4 linked regions of the Homo sapiens genome follow. The protein of the gene in region 1 purifies or fractionates together with the protein of each later gene. This does not show direct contact. Each region holds a gene or a part of one and is shown in the gene's direction. Other genes may lie near its edges.

Region 1 (4,775 bases):
TTTCTTAGCCACAGAAAAGCCAAGAGGTAACCAGTTAGCTCGGGGACCTAAGCCGCTTCTGTTTTGTTCTCCTGGGCACAGCTTCTCTTCCTAGTGTTGCATCGAGGTCTAAGAGGCTCTGGCCATCATGTCTTCATTCTATCCAGCAGGGAGGAAAAAGGGAGGAAAAGGGGCAAAGCGCTCATGCCATTTGTTGAGAAAGTTTCTAGGCCAGGTGCAGTGGCTCACGCCTGTAATCCCAGCACTTCGGGAGGCCGAGGCAGGAGGACTGCTTGAGCCCAGGAGTTCGAGAACAGCCTGGACAACATGGTGAAACCCCGTCTATACCAAAATATACAAAAATTAGCCGGGCATGATGGCGTGCATCTGTGGTCCCAGCTCCTCAAGAGGCTGAGGTGGGAGAATCTCTTGAACCCAGGAGGTGGAGGCTGCAGTGAGCTGTGATTGTACCACTGCACTCCAGCCTGAGTGGGAGAATAAGACCCTGTCTTTAAAAAAAAAGTTTCGGGATGTTTTCCCGTAACATTTCCACTCCTCCCCTGCTGACCAGGAAGTAGTCTTATGAACAGCCGTGAGGAAGGCTAAGAGGTGTAGACTTTATTTTGGGTCGCCCTGACCAGATATATTTGGAGTTCTGTTACTGTTGTAGCAAAGGGAATAGATGTTGGTTGCCAATTAATGGTTTGCCACTAACAGTGGAGACAAGAGCATGTCCTTCGATGTTGTTGGAGTGTTGGACACATGGACCACTGAGAGCAGCCTGGCCAGCGTCGCTATCGCTCAGTAAATATTAGCTCTTGTTATTGACATTACTGTTGCTGATAGAACTGGAGTTTGGATCCAGGTGGAGGGATGGTGCAGAGGAAGGAAGGCTGGAGCTGAGACTCCAGGCCCCCTCCCTGTTAGCAGGGAAGCTTGCTGCATTGTATTCCCCCTCAGGACAGTGGTGACGACCAACCCCTCTCACTGGATAATGGGGAAGAGCTCAAAGAACCAATGTCTATGGGTGCTTTGTGGTGCAGGCCTGTACAAGCGGCCTTTGTCCCTGTATGTGAACGTGACCTGCATTCCGATCTGGGCTGCCAAGCTGTGGAGTATGGCTGGGCCGTGGCTGATGGCTGCTTTGAGGAGGGGACTCTCATCTCAGCCTTGGGCCGAGAGCAGAGGCTGTGGAGCGAGTGTCAGTGAAGCTGCGGTAGATTGTGGCAGGCTGAATGAGTATGTCCAGATGCAGTTGGTTTCTGTCTTCCTGATTTGTCGTTGGTGCCTGCTTTCTCTCCCTGTCTTCAGTCCCAAGCAGACTCCGGTTCTGTCATTGCTTCTGTCCTTGTCAACTTTCCTTTTTAATCAGTGGTTTGGATAAAGAAACAGAATCCTCTGTTGATACGGAAATAAGAAGTAAACAGGTCGCAGCTCAGGCGTCGCCTCCTCCAGGAAGCTCCAGACTGACCCCCAAGTCTGGGTCAGGTGTTCCCCCTGTGGGCCCCCATCTCAGCGCTGTCCACTCTAGGTTGTCCTTGTATGGGGACAAGTCTGTGTCCCACACTGGACTGTGAGCCCATGAGGGCAGGGCCAGGGCTATCTCAGTTACTGCCATACCCTAGCACAAGGTCTGCTTAACAGTTGAATGAATGAATGAATGAATGAGTAACTTCATGAACTCCTCTGACACAATCTGATCCTAGAGACAGGATAATCCAGTGGTTAAGAGTTGGTTTTGGGCCGGGCGCGGTAGCTCACGCCTGTAATCCCAACACTTTGGGAGGCTGAGGTGAGCAGATCACCTGAGGTCAGGAGTTTGAGACCAGCCTGACCAACATGGAGAAACGTCATCTCTACTAAAAATACAAAATTAGCTGGGCGTTGTGGCACATGCCTGCAGTTCCAGCTACCTGGGAGGCTGAGGCAGGAGAATCGCTTGAACCCGGGAGGCAGAGATTGTGGTTAGCCTAGATCACGCCATTGCAGCCCAGCCTGGACAACAAGAGCAAAACTCTGTCTCCAAAAAAAAAAGTGGATTTTGGATCTTGAAGAGGTACTTATACACTTATGTTCATTACAGCATTATTAGCAATAGCCAAGAGGTGGACGCAAGCTAAATGTCCATTGAGGGATACATCGAGAAAGAAAATGTGGTCTCTACACATAACGCAATATTATTCAATCTTAAAAAAGAAAGAAATCCTGTCCTATGCTACAATATCGATGAGCCCTGAAGATGTTATGCTAAGTGAAATAAGCCAGTCGCAAAAAGACAGTATTGTATGATCCGCTGATAAGTATCTAAAATAGTTAAACCTTGCTTGAGCCCAGGAGTTCCAGGCTGCAGTGAACTGTGATCACACCACTGTACTCCAGCCTGGGTGACAGAGCAAGACTCCATCTCAAAAAAAAAAAAAAAAAAAACAGAGAGAGAGAGGAAGGGAGGAAGGGAGCTCACTTCGGCAGCACATATACTAAAATTGGAACGATACGGGGATTAGCATGGCCACTGTGCAAGGATGACACAAAAATTCGTGAAACCTTCTGTATTTTTGGTAAAGAAAAAAAAACCTAAAAGAAAAGTCAAACCCTCAGAAAAAGAAAATACAGTGCAGGTTGACAGGGATGGGGGGAGGAGGAAAGGGGAAGTTCAGTTTTGTTTCAGTTTTGTAAGATTTAAAAAGTTCTAAAGCTCTGTTGCACCACAGGGTGGATGTAGTTACTACTACTGTACTGTACACTTAAAAATGTTAAGATGGTAAATGTTTTCTACCACAATAAAAAAATTATTCTTGGCCAGATGTGGTGGCTCACACCTGTAATCCCAGCATTTTGGGTGGCTGAGGCAGGCAGATCACCTGAGGTCAGGAGTTGAAGACCAGCCTGGCCAACGTGGTGAAATCCCATCTCTACTAAAAATACAAAAAATTAGCCAGGCAGGTTGGTGCATGCCTGTACTCGGGAGGCTGAGGCAGGAGAATCGCTTGAACCTGGGAGGCGGAGGTTGCAGTGAGCCGAGATCATGCCATTGCACTCCAGCCTGGGCAACAAGAGTGAAACTCTTGTCTCAAAACAAACAAACAAAAAATTACTCTTAAAAAGCAAATAAATAAAAAGAAGCAGATTTTGTAGTCAGGCCCATCTGGGTTCAAATCCTAGTTCTGCTTATTCCTAATGTCAGGCAGGTGGACCCCATGGCTTTGAGCCTCAGTTTACTCATCTGTAACATGGGCATAAGAATAGTACCTGCTGGGCGTGGTGGCTCATGCCTGTAATCCCAGCACTTTGGGAGGCCGAGGCGGGTGGATCACGAGGTCAGGAGTTCGAGACCAGCCTGGCCAACATGGTGAAATCCCGTCTCTACTAAAAATACAAAAAATTAGCCAGGCATTTTGGTGCATGCCTGTACTCGGGAGGCTGAGGCAGGAGAATCGCTTGAACCTGGGAGGCGGAGGTTGCAGTGAGCCGAGATCATGCCATTGCACTCCAGCCTGGGCAACAAGAGTGAAACTCTTGTCTCAAAACAGACAAACAAAAAATTACTCTTAAAAAGCAAATAAATAAAAAGAAGCAGATTTTGTAGCCAGGCCCATCTGGGTTTGAATCCTAGTTCTGCTTATTCCTAATGTCAGGCAGGTGGACCCCATGGCTTTGAGCCTCAGTTTACTCATCTGTAACATGGGCATAAGAATAGTACCAGCTGGGCGTGGTGGCTCATGCCTGTAATCCCAGCACTTTGGGAGGCCGAGGCAGGCGGATCACGAGGTCAGGAGTTAGCGACCAGCCTGGCCAACATGGTGAAGCCCTGTCTCTACTAAAAATACCAAAATTAGCCAAGCGTGGTGGCGGGCACCTGTAATCCCAGCTACTCGGGAAGCTGAGGCAGGAGAATCCCTTGAACTTGGGAGGCAGAGGTTGCAGTGAGCCGAGATCGCGCCATTGCACTCCAGCCTGGGTGACAGAGCGAGACTCTGTTTCAAAAAAAGAAAAAGAATAGTATGTTTCTTCCATGGTTGGGACATTCGAGTGAGACAGTGCACATAAAACAGTGCCTGGTTTTTAGTAGGGTTCATTGACTTTTCCAGAATCTCCCAACAGAACCAGGCTCTGGACTCCTGGTGTTTACTCCCGGCTCAGTGCTTATTCCTTTCTGTGAAGCTGACCCTGCCAGTAGCTTCCCTGTACCTGCCAAATTCTGTCCTGCAAACAGTGTCCCATGAGTCCTGGCTGTGGGAACTGGGCATTTGGCCTGGAGCAGCCTCAGGAGTATGATGGGATCTTGGCCTTGGACTTGGCTGGCTTGTCCCAGGGCAGAGGGAGCTGGGTGCGCTGTGTGGCCCCAGCTGAGGAATCAGCTAAGGAATCGAGGGAGGCAGGCGAGGTGCAGCATGAGTAGCTGGACTCCAGCAGCGCCACCTCGCTGGGCCTGTGGTCTTGAGTGTTCCTTAGACTCAGTTTCTTTAGGTGTGAAATGAGAGTCACAGCAGCCCAGCACCTGGCACATAGTGAGTGCGGGGTTGAAACTAGCCAGGTATTAGCTGTGGTCCTGGTGAGTGACTCAGCTCCTTCAGCCCGGACTGCACCTTCTCATCTGCTGGCTGAGGGCTGAGATGGAGACAGAGTGAGGATGTGCAGGAGCTTGGAAACTTGGAGCTGGTGTTTTTTTCCTGAAGGGGCTCAGAGTCTTCATCTGTTAGTAAGGATTATTCCTGTCTTTCCTTCATTGGGTGTTCTCAAGCGCCTGCTGTGGGCCAGGCCCTGTTCTAGGCTTTAGGGATATAGCAGCCAAAACA
Region 2 (4,137 bases), on another chromosome or scaffold:
TCTCTGGAATGGGTCAGGACCCCAGGGCTTGGCAACAGCAGCTGCTGATGCTTAGAACTGGAAGTGGATTAGGAGCTGTTTATACTATAATCAAATACATACATGTATTTATGTAGCAAGATTTCAGGGTGGGGGGGAGGGAGTTAAACTGGTTTGATCATTCTAGGGGCATAGACTTGTATTTTTATGTTTTGGGGATGGGATGGGGTTATCTTCTGTTGTAAATTAGGTGGGATATGAACACACTTATTTTCCTGGTGAGTAGGACACAGGGAGGGTATTGAACTCAAAGGAGAAGGAGCCTCTATTTCCTGTTGAGGCTTATACTTTCTGACAAGGAAACTCCCAAAGGGCCAAGATACTTTTTGGTCCCATGATAGTCAGGTTCCAGACTTCTTTCTTTTCTATTGTATTTGTATGTGGAAAGCCATTAATGAATTTATTTTACTCCAAGAGATACACATAAAAGGGAAAAGGGCATGGTTGGGAGGTTGAGCAGTAAGAGACCATTAATACTAAGTATTTTGCCTGAAATGCTTCTTTATAATTATTTCAGGGAAGGAATAAGATAATCTCAGACTTACTGGGGTGGGGCTTGGGGAATGTTTGGATGTTGCTCTTTTTCTTCTTCCTTCTTTTTTTTTTTTTTTTTTTTTTGGTTGGTGTTGTTTGGCATTTTTTTCTTTTCCTTTTTAAAGAAAATGTTTTCAGGAAACATGAACAAACATACTGCCAATTATAGTGGGGCTGGGAAGGCACAGGAGCTGGCGACCTCTCAGCTGCATAGTTGGGACGGCAAACCCTGCTGTGAGCTTCTCAGACTTTTCACCTACTTCACCTATTAAGAAGCCATGAGGAGTTGTAAACTCTTGTTCAGGGAAGAAAAGAGGGCAGGAGGAAGTAACCCAATGCCTTTAAATACAAAACAGATGAAAAACAAAATACTCATTTTTCCTTTTCTATTGTGGGTTTGGGGAGCCAAACCAAGTGTGACTGTGAGCACGTTCACTGAGAGGCATGACAACATTATTGAAGAGGTCTTTCCATTATGTCTGGTTCTCTTATTTTCTTAAGTCAAGCCTTAACTATGAACATACTTTAAGATGATACGGGTCTGTCACCATAAACCTGTAAAAGGGCATCGACAGCTTTTCAGATAATCCAGGAATGTTGAGACATGGCTAAGTTTCTAGCTGATACTTAGTCATTCCCTCTTGATATTGTTGGGATGGGTAGCCAAAAGGCAGGCTTGTGGGAGTTAAGAGCCAATGATACCTGGAAACATGGGAGGTAGCTGGGGGTACAAGTGGATGTTGAGACTGAAGGAAGAGGTGGAAAGAAGACACAGAAGGCACCCAGATGCCAAAAGGCCTGGCATGAATGAGAGTTGGCATCTGTCCTGTTGTGGTGTTCCCATTCTTGCCATACCCATTTGCCCAGATTGTTCTGATTCTCATGTTCAATTGACTATCCCACATGAGACTACAGTTTATAGGCAGTGAGGAATTGTTTCTTCCTGGGAAATGTCCTTCCAGCAACTTCAGAGGAATGGGAAAGTGTTAATCTTACGTGAAGCAAAGGAGCCTGGACTAGGGGCAGAGAGAAAGAAGCAGCAGCCCACCTTCTTTGTGTTTGCACATGTGCCTATGTCGTGTACATTGGTACCTGACTGTGGCTCAGATCTGCGTCGCAGCAGCGAGAGAAGAAATCACTCCATATCCGATGAGAGGAAGGGTGGCACAGAGATGGTGTCTACAATTAGAGACATTTCTGACTCCACCTTAGCCTAAGCAAACTTTATATACTGAGTAACATTTGAAGGTTGTCTTTTAATGGTGGGGGGTGTTTTTTCCTTTTTAAACTACAGTGCTTGCACAAGAGAGGGAGGGACTCAGAAAAGGTTAGGGCAGGTGAGGGAGACAGTAGATGGCCTGGGATGACTTGAGTCCATCATACTATTGCTTGGCAGGTGTCCTCCCCCATGTTTGATTCAAATTCCATGAGTGACCTACCTTTCCCCAGGAATGGGACTGAGAGGGTAGTCTCCAGCAACTCAGTCTGCACAGGGCTCCCCGTTCAGGCTGCCTTTGGTGGTTGTGCTTTTGTAAGTTTCTTTCTCTGCACTTCGACTTACCTCTGAATCAGAAAGCAAGCCCAGCAGGTGAATGAGGGATGTCTGCTTGGCATTGCCCAATCTAACCAGGGAGGCTGGCTGGCCACCCACTGTCCGCTAGAGGGGAGAGCTAGCAGGTGTTGGTATGAACTCAGGAATAGAAACACGAGGCCTTTTTAAATACGAGGGAGAAGAATCCATGATGCATACCTGTAACCCCCTAGAACCCAAGTGCCAGAATTCCTAGATGCTGCTTCTGTTTGAACAAAATGTCACTGCTTTTACACTTGAAAAAAACACACTCGAAAAATGTTCAACTCCATGAAAAATATTTTTTGGCTTTAAGAAATTGTTTGGTGTTTAACTGTTTCCTTTGATTGCCATTCCACCAGTAAATTGTTGGTTGATTTGCACTGCACTCTGGGGTTGGGGTTGGGAGGGGAGGGTCCTTATACAGAGCCGAACCTGGGGTTGCTCAGGAAGTGGGCCAGGGAATGTGGAAGTCGTTGACATTGCCTGGGCCAAAAGAGTGGGAGATAGTTTTTCTCCCCTCAGCCCACTCCTGGTAGCACCTGTCGCCAGCCTGGTACAAAGCCAGGCCTTTTTCTTCTGTGAGCATCTCATCACTGTCCAGCAGCAGGTGGAAAAAGGGGGACAACAACCAGACCTATTTTTTCTCCCCCATTTTTTCCAAATTTTGCTGTGCCAAATGTTTAAAATTTTATAAATATGAATCTATTGAAATTTCCTTAATCAAGAGCTTCTTCGTGTAAAGTTTGCTTTTTTAGCTATAGAAAAAGAAAACAGTAAATATCTCTTAATGGCATCCAGCCTTGCTGAGCTCACCTTTTTTCCTGAAGAATGGGTAGGAGTGAAATATTTAATGTAAACATTTCACCAAGTCCCTTTACCCTAATTTTGAAGCTGCATTAAACCCAACTCACTAACACAGGGAATGATTGCACCCTAGTCCTCTGTGGGCCAAGAAACTTTCAGAAGCATTAAAAAAATAGTTGAAGTATATCACTTCTCACCAAGTGGGTAGAGTCAGTTGGCTGTTTGTCCCTTGTTTTTTATTTATTCCATAATTATGTTTGTGCTTTTTGTTTTGTAAACAGTAATGGAACGTACATTTTTATTTTGTTTAGAAGACAACTTTGATTCAATCTTTCAAGAACTGTTCCATTCTTGGTTTCTTCTTAGGGGGATAAAAAGTTACCAGTTAATTTGTTTTGAGATATTTAAGCATTCTTTGAGTTATAGAATTGTGATGCAGGGATTTGTGAATGAGACATTTACATGTGAAAGGTGACTTCACTAGTTACCTGCTTGAGCAGAGTAAAGTGTGTATATGTACATAAAATGTAAGTAATCTTAACTCCATTGTGCAGTGCCTTTTAGATGTTCCGCTTTCTATAAAGTCTTCAAATTTTTGCATATATATTATATATATATGATGTAATGTTATAGAAATATATGTATAATATACATATTTTTTCCAGGGGTATCTGATAGCTCTGTATTTTGTTATGGAAGTTGAAAGAAAAAAGTATTTTACCTCAGAAATTAAATAAAAAAATACTTTTAAGTAATGTTTGCTGAGAGTTGGTTTTGTTGTTCATCATACACTGTGCTGGGGTGGTCATGCCAGAGAATTTGCCAAGTCCGTCCTCGCTCCCCCACCCTCATGCATTGTTATTCCTATTGTACAGGTACCAACATAGTAAGGAAATAGGTCTCTTAACAGTTCTGGAGATTTTCCATTTTCTTGAGTGAATGGCTGCTACCAGTTAAAACTAACTGAAGCCAGAGACGCAAGTTAGGTGGAAATTTCTATCTCAAGATTATTGTGAAGATTCTTTAAGAGTACATGTCAAAGCCAGACACAAAAGACCACACATTGCGTGATTCCTTTTACATGAAGTGTCCAGAATAGGCAAATCTGTAGCGACTGAACACAGATTAGTGGTTACCAGGGAAAAGTGGGGAGTAACCATTAGCAGGTCAGATTACCTTTTTAGGGT
Region 3 (4,744 bases), on another chromosome or scaffold:
AGGGGGCGGGCAGACTCCTCCCCGCCGGCAGCCAGGGCAGAGGGCTGGAGGAAACGCGGAGAACTCCTCGGTGCTGGAGGAAACGAGGGGAACTCCTCGCCGGCCTTGCGGTCCCCCACAGCCCACGGAGTGCCACTCCCAGTCCCCACAGACCCCACCTGCGTCGCCCTGTGCTGAGAGGAGGCCGCAGGGCTGGGGCCGGGAGTGACCCCAATTAGAGCTGCTGTTTCCCAGCTGCATAGGTCCCAACCGCGGGGGCTGGAGATGAGGCGGGCTTGAGGCCCCTAGTCCCGGCTTCAGAGGTGGAGGGTGTGACCCGCAGGTCCGGGATCCCGGGGTCTGTGCAGTCACACGGCCCTTCCCTTCGCTCAGGAAAGCCCGGGGCTGAGTTTCATGCTCAACCGCTGCCAACTTGAAATTCCTAGCTTTTGAATAAGGGGCCCCGCGTTTGCATTTTGCACTGGGCCCCGAAAATTCTGTGGCTGGCCCTGCCTGGTGTGAAGCTCACAGAGCCCCACTATGCGCCGCCTTTCTATGGCTGGGGGCCGGATGAGGGACCCGGGTCTGCTCTTACTCGCCCCAAGGGTCCCTGACACCAGCCCAGAACGGGGTGGAGCTGGAAAGAGCCCACACCTGCTTCCTCTGCCCACCTCATCTCCCGCGGGGCCTCTGAGACCGCCCGGGACCCGCTTCTATCGCGGCACCGTGGTGTAGCTCCCTCCGGGGTCGTATGCTGTATGTTTACTAGCCGAATTCTCAGTCCTGGACGCTCCGTGGGGCCAGGGAATATGATCTGTGCTCCGCTGCAGCCTCGCGCCCAGAGTAAATATCGGTCGGATGAACTAATCTTACATATAAAACAGAAATCATTTCCCTTTTTTAATATGGCACGTGGCTCTTCCCTAAGTCGCCCTGGGTTAAATACCGACTCAATTAACAAGATGCTAAAAACCGTTTACGTTTTTTTACGTTTTTTACGTTTAATTCACCAGACGGTGCGCTCCACGAGGGAAGGGGCCTGGCCTCCCTAGTTCAGGGTTGTGCTTAGTGCCTGCAACCGGCCGGGCCCGCGGGGGCAGCCAGGAGAGAAAGGCGCGCCCAGCGCCCCCAGGCCCGGATCCGCCCTCAGCCCGCGTGCGCTCCCCTCCCCCCTCCCCCCAATCGCCGCGCGCCCGGGTGCGGCTGGGCGGGGTTAGAACTACGCTTCCCGGCGGTCCCCGCGCGCCCGGGGCGGGGCGGGGCCGGCTGGGGGCGGGGCTGAGCTGGCGGGGGCGGCAGGCTACAAAGCCCGGGGGCGGTGCCGGGGCGCAGAGTCCCCGCAGCGCCGGTCGGGAGCGCAGCGCGGCGCACGTCGGCGCGCACGGCGGGACGGGCGCCGGAGTGGTCGGGCCTGGCGGCTGGACGGGCGCCCCTCGCTGCCCCGCGCGCTCCCCGCCGCCCCCCATGAGCGCAGCCCCGCGCGGCCCGGGTCCGTAGGCGGCGGGGCGCCCCCCATGCTGCTGCAGCCCGCGCCGTGCGCCCCGAGCGCGGGCTTCCCGCGGCCCCTGGCCGCCCCCGGCGCCATGCACGGCTCGCAGAAGGACACCACGTTCACCAAGATCTTCGTGGGCGGCCTGCCGTACCACACTACCGACGCCTCGCTCAGGAAGTACTTCGAGGGCTTCGGCGACATCGAGGAGGCCGTGGTCATCACCGACCGCCAGACGGGCAAGTCCCGCGGCTACGGCTTCGTAAGTGGCCCCCGCGCCCGGGCCCGCACCCCGCCGCACACCTTATCGCGGCCCGGGCGCCGAGTCCACTCCGGGGCACACGCCCAGACGGCCCGCTGCCGCCCCCGCCCCAGGCGCCTCCAGCCGGCGCCCGCACCTGCCGCCTCTCCCGGGCGCGCTCCTGCCGGTCCCGCCCCCACCACCCCAGGCCCCGGCCCCCACCCCCACCCCCACCCCCACCCCCACCCCCGGTTTAAAAGGAAGAGCCGCTGTGTTCAATTAGGACTCCTAAGTTGGTGGGGAGGTTTTGGAGCCAGAGGGCACTCGGGATTTCCTGGAGCAGCGGGGGGTGAGGAGCAATGGCTCCACCCCGGGGTGTTAGGAGCTCTTCGGCCTCCCCCATATTTTTAACAGCCCTCTCAGCCGCCCCAAATAAACATCAGCTTAAGTAAAAACGTCTTGAAGACACTTTCCTGCTTACCTTCCAAGCATAGCGTCGCAAACTCCTTCTCAGAGGAAAGTCTCGGCCCTCACTGGTGGGCAAGTCCAGGCGGCCCCCCAAGCTCCCTTCGGGGTTCATTTTTGCCCTATCCCCGCAGGGGATTATTTTTGTCCTTGAAGGCCACATTTCCCAGGCCTTGAACTTTGACGGGAGGAGCTGGAATCCAGGAGGCATCTTTGTGGGAGAGCCCCAGGTAGGGTTCAGAGGAGCTTTGGCTCAAGGACCCTGGGTCACAGGCACCCTCAGAGGAAGGGAAGAGAGGGGTGGCAGCATCCGGTGCCAGGGCGGAGCCGTCTGCCCCTTTCGCCCCTGGTTCCCCCCACGGCAGCCCCTGATGTGTCTCTGCTCCACCAGGTGACCATGGCCGACCGGGCGGCAGCTGAGAGGGCTTGCAAAGACCCGAACCCCATCATCGACGGCCGCAAGGCCAACGTGAACCTGGCATATCTGGGCGCCAAGCCGCGGAGCCTCCAGACGGGTGAGAGCTTGTGTTTTCCTGCCTGGCTCTTCTCGGTTTCTATATTGGGTGTCGGTATCTGTCGGGTGGAAAGAGGCCCCCCCTCCTCGCCCCAGCAGTGGCAGTCGGCTATCATGTGCCTGCAGAGCCGGCACAGGGCAGCCATCCCCCCCTCGAGGATCTAGACCCCTTCTCACAGCGTGTGGCCCAAAGAAGGGGGCGGGGGGCAGGGAGGGTACTGCACCCCAGTTGCCAGCTGTCCTCGCAGGAGGGAGGAAGTGGCCATGGGGCCTGGAGGTTGGGAGTGCCGACACCAGTGGCTGCTGACACCTGCGTCACTCACTGCCACACTTCAGCGGTGTGCCTTGGGGTTCACAAGGGGGAGGCCTGGGAGGGGAGAGGAAGCGGATGATCCCTTTTGACTAGAGGTGTGTGGCTTGTGGGATTCTGCCACCCTGTGTGCAGCCCTTGAGACGTGGCTCGTGCAGCAAGGCCAAGTCCCTGATTGTTCTCTCGTTTTAGGCTTTGCCATTGGGGTGCAGCAGCTGCACCCCACCTTGATCCAGCGGACTTACGGGTGAGTGGACATGGCTGGCTTGGGGTGGGTAGTCCGTGGAGATGAAGTGGAGAGGGCCTTGGGCTTCCTGGGTCTGGAAGGCTGGGGAAATGACAGTTTTCAGACATTTGATTGCGTTTAAGCCAAGGGAGTGAAGAGAAGGCAGATTGCACTTCTCCATCCCTGGCAGAGGCCATACCACCTAGGGGATGGTGAGCCTTGGAGCCTGCCTGCCTTGGTACACACCCCAGCTCCCTTCGCTAGGTGTGTGGCCTCAGTTTCCTCACCCGTAAAATGGGAGTGGTCACAGCACATCTGAGTTCTCTGAATGGAGGGCCTAGGGTGGGCCTGGTGCAGGTAACGCCCTCTTGAAGTGTTTGCTGATGACTCTTAGGGACTGGCAGGCTGAGTTCTTCCCCAGGCACTCCTCTCACCTGTTCTAGTGCTGGGGCAGGTGGTGGCAGTAGGTCATTGCTACCAAGGTCTGATGTTTGTGAACGTTGCTGTAGATACGATGTGTTTGGGGTGGAGGCCACCTGCCTGAGTGGCCTGGCCTATGGGCTTCTAGTCTGACTCATTTACAAGCAGCGCAGCCCACTCTTCTCCATCCTAAAACGCCTCCCACCTCCCTGCCCTTTTTTAAAACATCTAGTAAGTCCTGGCAGCTGCTTGGGGAGGGACACACACACTTAAGGGATACAAAGAGTCCTGCCTTGCGGCCTGCCTCCCCACCCCCATGATGGATGGAAGCTGTCTGCCCTAGCGCCGTGGCATATTGATGGGGTTGGAGTTGGAGGGGAAGGCAGCTCAGAGACCACCACCCCTTTCAGGGCATTGGCACTTCATGAACTTTCTGAATCCAAATCCCTAATGCCAGTTGATCACGTGTGTGTGCTCACGCATGTGCGCACCACGTAGATTCCATTGAGAGAGACACAGCTTGAGGAGTAACCTGCCTGACTGGGGCAGTGTGGACAAGGATCCTGTGGAACCCGGCTGAGCCTGGCTCCCAGGTGAATGGGTCCCCTGGGGCCTGGCTCCCAGGTGAATGGGTCAGAGGCCCCAGCAGAAGTTGCTGTGCCCACTTTTTGGGAACGCTTGGGGTGACTCGGGGGCTCCCTGCCGGCTTCCGTGTGTATTGGTGGATGTGTGCAAGTGTAGCAGTGGGAGGAGCCGCTGGCTGAGGGGTGCTGGAGGGTGGCCGGGGCCCTTCTAGCCTGTGCGAGTGGCCGGGCAGCTCAGGTTCCTGCCGGGGTGCCTCTGTCCTCCTGGGAAGGGAGCGTGTAGGGTGGTGGGAGCAGGCGGCCCTGTCCGTCTCGTCCTGGAATCTGTTTTGTAGATGTCTAGAGTCGTCTTAGAGGGTGTTTGGGGACACTGTAGCCTTCATGCCTTCACCGAGATTCTTCCTATGGGGTTCAGGCCACATGAAGAGGGTGTTCCTTGTTTTCCAGAACCTTGGCTCCATTCCCCAGGCCCACAGCAGGCGCCTGGGGGCATGGACTGGGCGGGAGCAGCTGCCC
Region 4 (4,137 bases), on another chromosome or scaffold:
CAAGTAAATGATAACATTTGACGTAGCATGGGCATGACATACTACATGACCACTGGCAGAAATCCCTTATATACAATTATGCAAAATAGCTGAAGCACTTATTAATTTAAATAAAACATTTAAGCCCTTACTCTCTGTGGAAAGTTGTCATAGGACACACTCCTATGAAATCCACCACTGTCCCTTTGAAGCCTTATGAGAAATGTTTCTTTTAAAACAGTTGCAAATTTAAACACTTCCAGAGTGTTGCACCCAAACCCCCAGAGCTATAGTGGTTTGGGTGCAAGTACATGTTGGTATTCAGACTATTGTGAATCGGAAAGCACATTTGTGCATTCGCCATCTAAATGAGATTCAGTCAACAAATACTTACTGATGGTCAGATATTTATTTACTATTTGTCACGCATTTTTTTCAAAAACAAGATATTACAATTTAGAGCAAAAATTTAAGCTTTGGCTTAATGTTGAAAGAAGTACTGCTTGGCTCAAACAAAATATGTCTGTGAACTGTCAGTTTGCCATTGCCATTTATAATTTAGTACCTAGGAAAATTTCACTTCAGAGATGTCTATATTTCTTAGTAATAAAAGCTGTGTGTGTGTGTGTGTGTGTGTGTGTGTGTGTGTGTATGAATGTCCTTGTAGTATGTACTTGTCTGACATCTAAGGAGATAAGAGGCAAAAATCAAAACTTCACGGTAAATGTATTAACCGTTTTTGTAGGCGTATTAACTGTTGTTCAGTCCAGTCCTGTGTGTGGATTAGTCATTATGTTTTTGCCCATAATAACAGAACATCCAACAAAGAGTGGCTTAAACAATAAGTGCATTTATTGGCCTTTATAACTGGAAGTATAGTGGTAGGGCAGTGTTCAGGGTTGGTTTGTCTTGTCATTAAACATTGTCACCAAGGACCTGGCTCCTTTATAATTTACCTTCCATTTTGGTCAGTGACCAGTTTCTTAAAATCCCTTTAAATTGTTTTCAAAACATTGTGTGTTCGCCCCATACCTTCTTCTTTGGTATGTTTGTTGCTATTGCCACACTTTCCCCATACCTGCCAACCTACCCTGTTACCACCTCTTTGTCCATTTCTCCCCAGCCTCAGACAGGTAAGACAGAATTGTTTCTGAAATGGAATAAAGAACAGTCTTGGCCGGGCGCCGTGGCTCATGCCTGTAATCCCAGCACTTTGGGAGGCTGAGATGGGCGGATCACATGAGGTCAGGAGTTTGAGAGTAGTCTGGCCAACATGGTGAAACCCCATCTCTACTAAAAGTACAAAAATTAGCCGGGCGTGGTGGTGCACACCTGTAGTCCCAGCTACTTGGACGGCTGAGGTGGGAGAATTGCTTCAACCTGGGAGGCGGAGATTGCAGTGAGCTGAGATTGCACCATTGCACTCCAGCCTAGGTGACAGAGCAAGACTCCGTCTCAAAAAAAACAAAAAACAAAACAAAAAAAAACAGTCTTATGACTGCTGTTTTCTTTTCAGTTAATCTCCTTTCTTCCTTAAAAAAATCACTTTTCATTTGAATTCAGAAATACTGTGGAATTTGACAAGAATGTTCTGTAGAACAAGAAAACTTGATGAAACTGAGTCAGAAAATGAATTTCAGACCCCGAAAGGGCCTTGACCCTGGAGTCAAGAGCCCTGTTCTGAATTCTGGCCATGACAATTTTGGGTTTTGTATCTTTGGATGAACATTTCACCTCTCTGGGCTTAATTTTCTGTTACATAAATGGGAGTTGCAAACTCCTTTTCCAAAATGCCAGTGAGAATTCCAGAGAAAGTGTATATGAAAAACTTCTAACATAGAATTGGGCTTAGGACAAATACTAAGTAAATATTTTACAAATTTCTGCATTGAGTCATTTTCTTTTGGTTTCATCACTTTGATTGAGACCCAGACTTTTGAAGCTGGGCCCTGGAATTCTGTGAAGTCCAGCCTGGGTATCTTTTTGTGGCTACCATTAAACCCCAAACCAGACATTTATTAAGACTTGTGAAGAGTTGAGAAGTAGTTAATATTGGATGACTTTTCTCGTGGGTTTTTAATTGTTATTCATCTAAACTTTTTGTGGTTTATGTAATATTTCTTACCTCCTTTGGCCTTTTGTTTAAAAGGAGGTGGGGGAAACAACCCCAGAAAGGCTTGGCATCTTTTTTCTATTGCAATCAAAATTTAAAATGAAATAAAATAAGAACTGTTTTTTGTTTTGTTTTGTTTTGGTTTGGTTTTTTTTTTTTTTCAGATGGAGTCTTGCTCTGTCGCCCAGGCTGGAGTGCAGTGGCACAATCTCGGCTCACTGCAAGCCCTGCCTCCGGGGTTCGCCATTCTCCTGCCTCAGCCTCCCAAGTAGCTGGGATTACAGGCACCTGCCACCACGCCCAGCTAATTTTTTTTTTTTTTTTTGTATTTTTTAGTAGAGTCGGGGTTTCACCGTGTTAGCCAGGATGGTCTTGATCTCCCGACCTTGTGATCGGCCCGTCTCAGCCTCCCAAAGTGTCAGGATTACAGGCATGAGCCACCGTCCCTGGCCTGTTATTTTGTTATTTTAAAATACTCATAATTTATTATGCTGCTATACTGTTTTTTTCTGTTTGTTTGTTTTTGTTTTTTTTTGTTTGTTTGTTTGTTTTTTTTGGAGACAAGGTCTTGCTCTGTTGCCTAGACTGGAGTGGAGTGGTGCAATCATGGCTTACTGCAGCCTCGACCTACTGGGCTCAGGTGATCCTCCTATCTCAACATCCCAAGTAGTTAGGACTACAGGTGTGTATCACCACACCCAGCTAATTTTTATTTTTTATTTTTTTTTAGAGATGGGGTCTCTCTCTGTTGTCCAGGCTGGTCTCGAACTCTTAGGCTCAAGCCATCCTCCTGCTTCGACTTCCCAAAGTGTTGGGTTTACAGACATCAGCCACCACGCCTGGCCTGCTATATGTTTTGATACGCCTTTTGGTCATATGTTTGTTTTATCTGTGATTCACAATTATTCCCTTGTCACCCATCAAAACAGCATTATCAGTGGCATGAAGGTTGTTGGAACTACAGTCATTTCAGGCTGTGTCACAATAGAAATTGTTAAGAGCTGTCCATTTGTAATGAAAACTCGAAAATTTTTCATTTTTAAGGCATCTCCTGTCTTGTACTCATTATGTCTCATCCATGGCCTGGAATGTCTTAGCGATTTTCACACTTCTATTTAGTGGCAAAATCATTCCTTCAAAGACAGCTTTTTCATGGGATCCCCTGTATAAAACAGACCAATCTGGATGCCTGATTTTTTAGAGTGGGTTTCAGATGGAAATGGGGGTTATTCAAGAATGAAAGGAATCTCCGCAGATCTCAGAATGGAAAACCACTCCAGTCTGAGTTTGTTTTGCATTTTCTGAGTTTTTATTGCTGGTGCTCAGGTGCTAGGTTCACCTGGTCGGCACATTTCTTCCTCATTTCATTTACTAGGGGCCATGCTAACTGTTGCTCCAGCCTTACTAGCAGTCTACCATCAACGGTAAAAGCATTCCCTTCTCAATCTTTGTGCAAAAGTTTCCTTCCAGGTTGTTGAGTTGACCCACGAAAGTCATGACGCTAATAGAATTGTCTTGACACAAAAACAACAGCATTGAAGAAATCAGAAATGGTGCAGGCTTTCGGGTGTGGGAATGCTTTTTTCTCTCTTGAATGAAGTTGCTGAAGAGTGGTCTTAAGTTATCCTGTTCTGTAACCAACAGGAGGACTCACGAATGGCAGTGGAAGATACATCTCTGCTGCTCCAGGCGCTGAAGCCAAGTACCGCAGTGCAAGCAGCGCCTCCAGCCTCTTCAGCCCGAGCAGCACTCTTTTCTCTTCCTCTCGTTTGCGATATGGAATGTCTGATGTCATGCCTTCTGGCAGGAGCAGGCTTTTGGAAGATTTTCGAAACAACCGGTACCCCAATTTACAACTGCGGGAGATTGCTGGACATATAATGGAATTTTCCCAAGACCAGCATGGGTCCAGGTGAGTACTTGGCTTTGGCACTTTAAGGTACCCGAAATTGTAATGCCTTAACTGTCTTGGCTCAGATGGGTATCTACTTAAATAAATTGCCATATAGTAATTTTTTAAAAGCGTGCCTCTTAGTTTGCATCAC

What was found. Proteins that work in one complex are often made in the same cells at the same time.
Region 2: the proteins of CLASRP (region 1) and ETV3 purify together in Homo sapiens (affinity purification with mass spectrometry; one large-scale study listed by BioGRID and IntAct). This does not show direct contact.
Region 3: the proteins of CLASRP (region 1) and RBM38 purify together in Homo sapiens (affinity purification with mass spectrometry; one large-scale study listed by BioGRID and IntAct). This does not show direct contact.
Region 4: the proteins of CLASRP (region 1) and PUM1 purify together in Homo sapiens (affinity purification with mass spectrometry; 2 studies listed by BioGRID and IntAct, with this or other methods). This does not show direct contact.

What each region holds. Positions count from the first base shown.
Region 1 is NC_000019.10:45,045,026-45,049,800, forward strand, and holds part of CLASRP (CLK4-associating serine/arginine rich protein), read left to right. Parts: intron 1-4,775. UniProt on the Homo sapiens protein: Probably functions as an alternative splicing regulator. May regulate the mRNA splicing of genes such as CLK1. May act by regulating members of the CLK kinase family.
Region 2 is NC_000001.11:157,120,759-157,124,895, reverse strand, and holds the end of ETV3 (ETS translocation variant 3), read left to right. Parts: coding exon 1-55; 3' UTR 56-3,705; downstream 3,706-4,137. UniProt on the Homo sapiens protein: Transcriptional repressor that contribute to growth arrest during terminal macrophage differentiation by repressing target genes involved in Ras-dependent proliferation. Represses MMP1 promoter activity.
Region 3 is NC_000020.11:57,390,089-57,394,832, forward strand, and holds the start of RBM38 (RNA-binding protein 38), read left to right. Parts: upstream 1-1,307; 5' UTR 1,308-1,493; coding exon 1,494-1,730; intron 1,731-2,190; exon of another isoform or gene 2,191-2,308; coding exon of another isoform or gene 2,309-2,404; exon of another isoform or gene 2,405-2,565; coding exon 2,566-2,689; exon of another isoform or gene 2,690-2,968; intron 2,969-3,190; coding exon 3,191-3,245; intron 3,246-4,744. UniProt on the Homo sapiens protein: RNA-binding protein that specifically bind the 3'-UTR of CDKN1A transcripts, leading to maintain the stability of CDKN1A transcripts, thereby acting as a mediator of the p53/TP53 family to regulate CDKN1A.
Region 4 is NC_000001.11:30,953,581-30,957,717, reverse strand, and holds part of PUM1 (pumilio homolog 1), read left to right. Parts: intron 1-3,736; coding exon 3,737-4,004; intron 4,005-4,137. UniProt on the Homo sapiens protein: Sequence-specific RNA-binding protein that acts as a post-transcriptional repressor by binding the 3'-UTR of mRNA targets.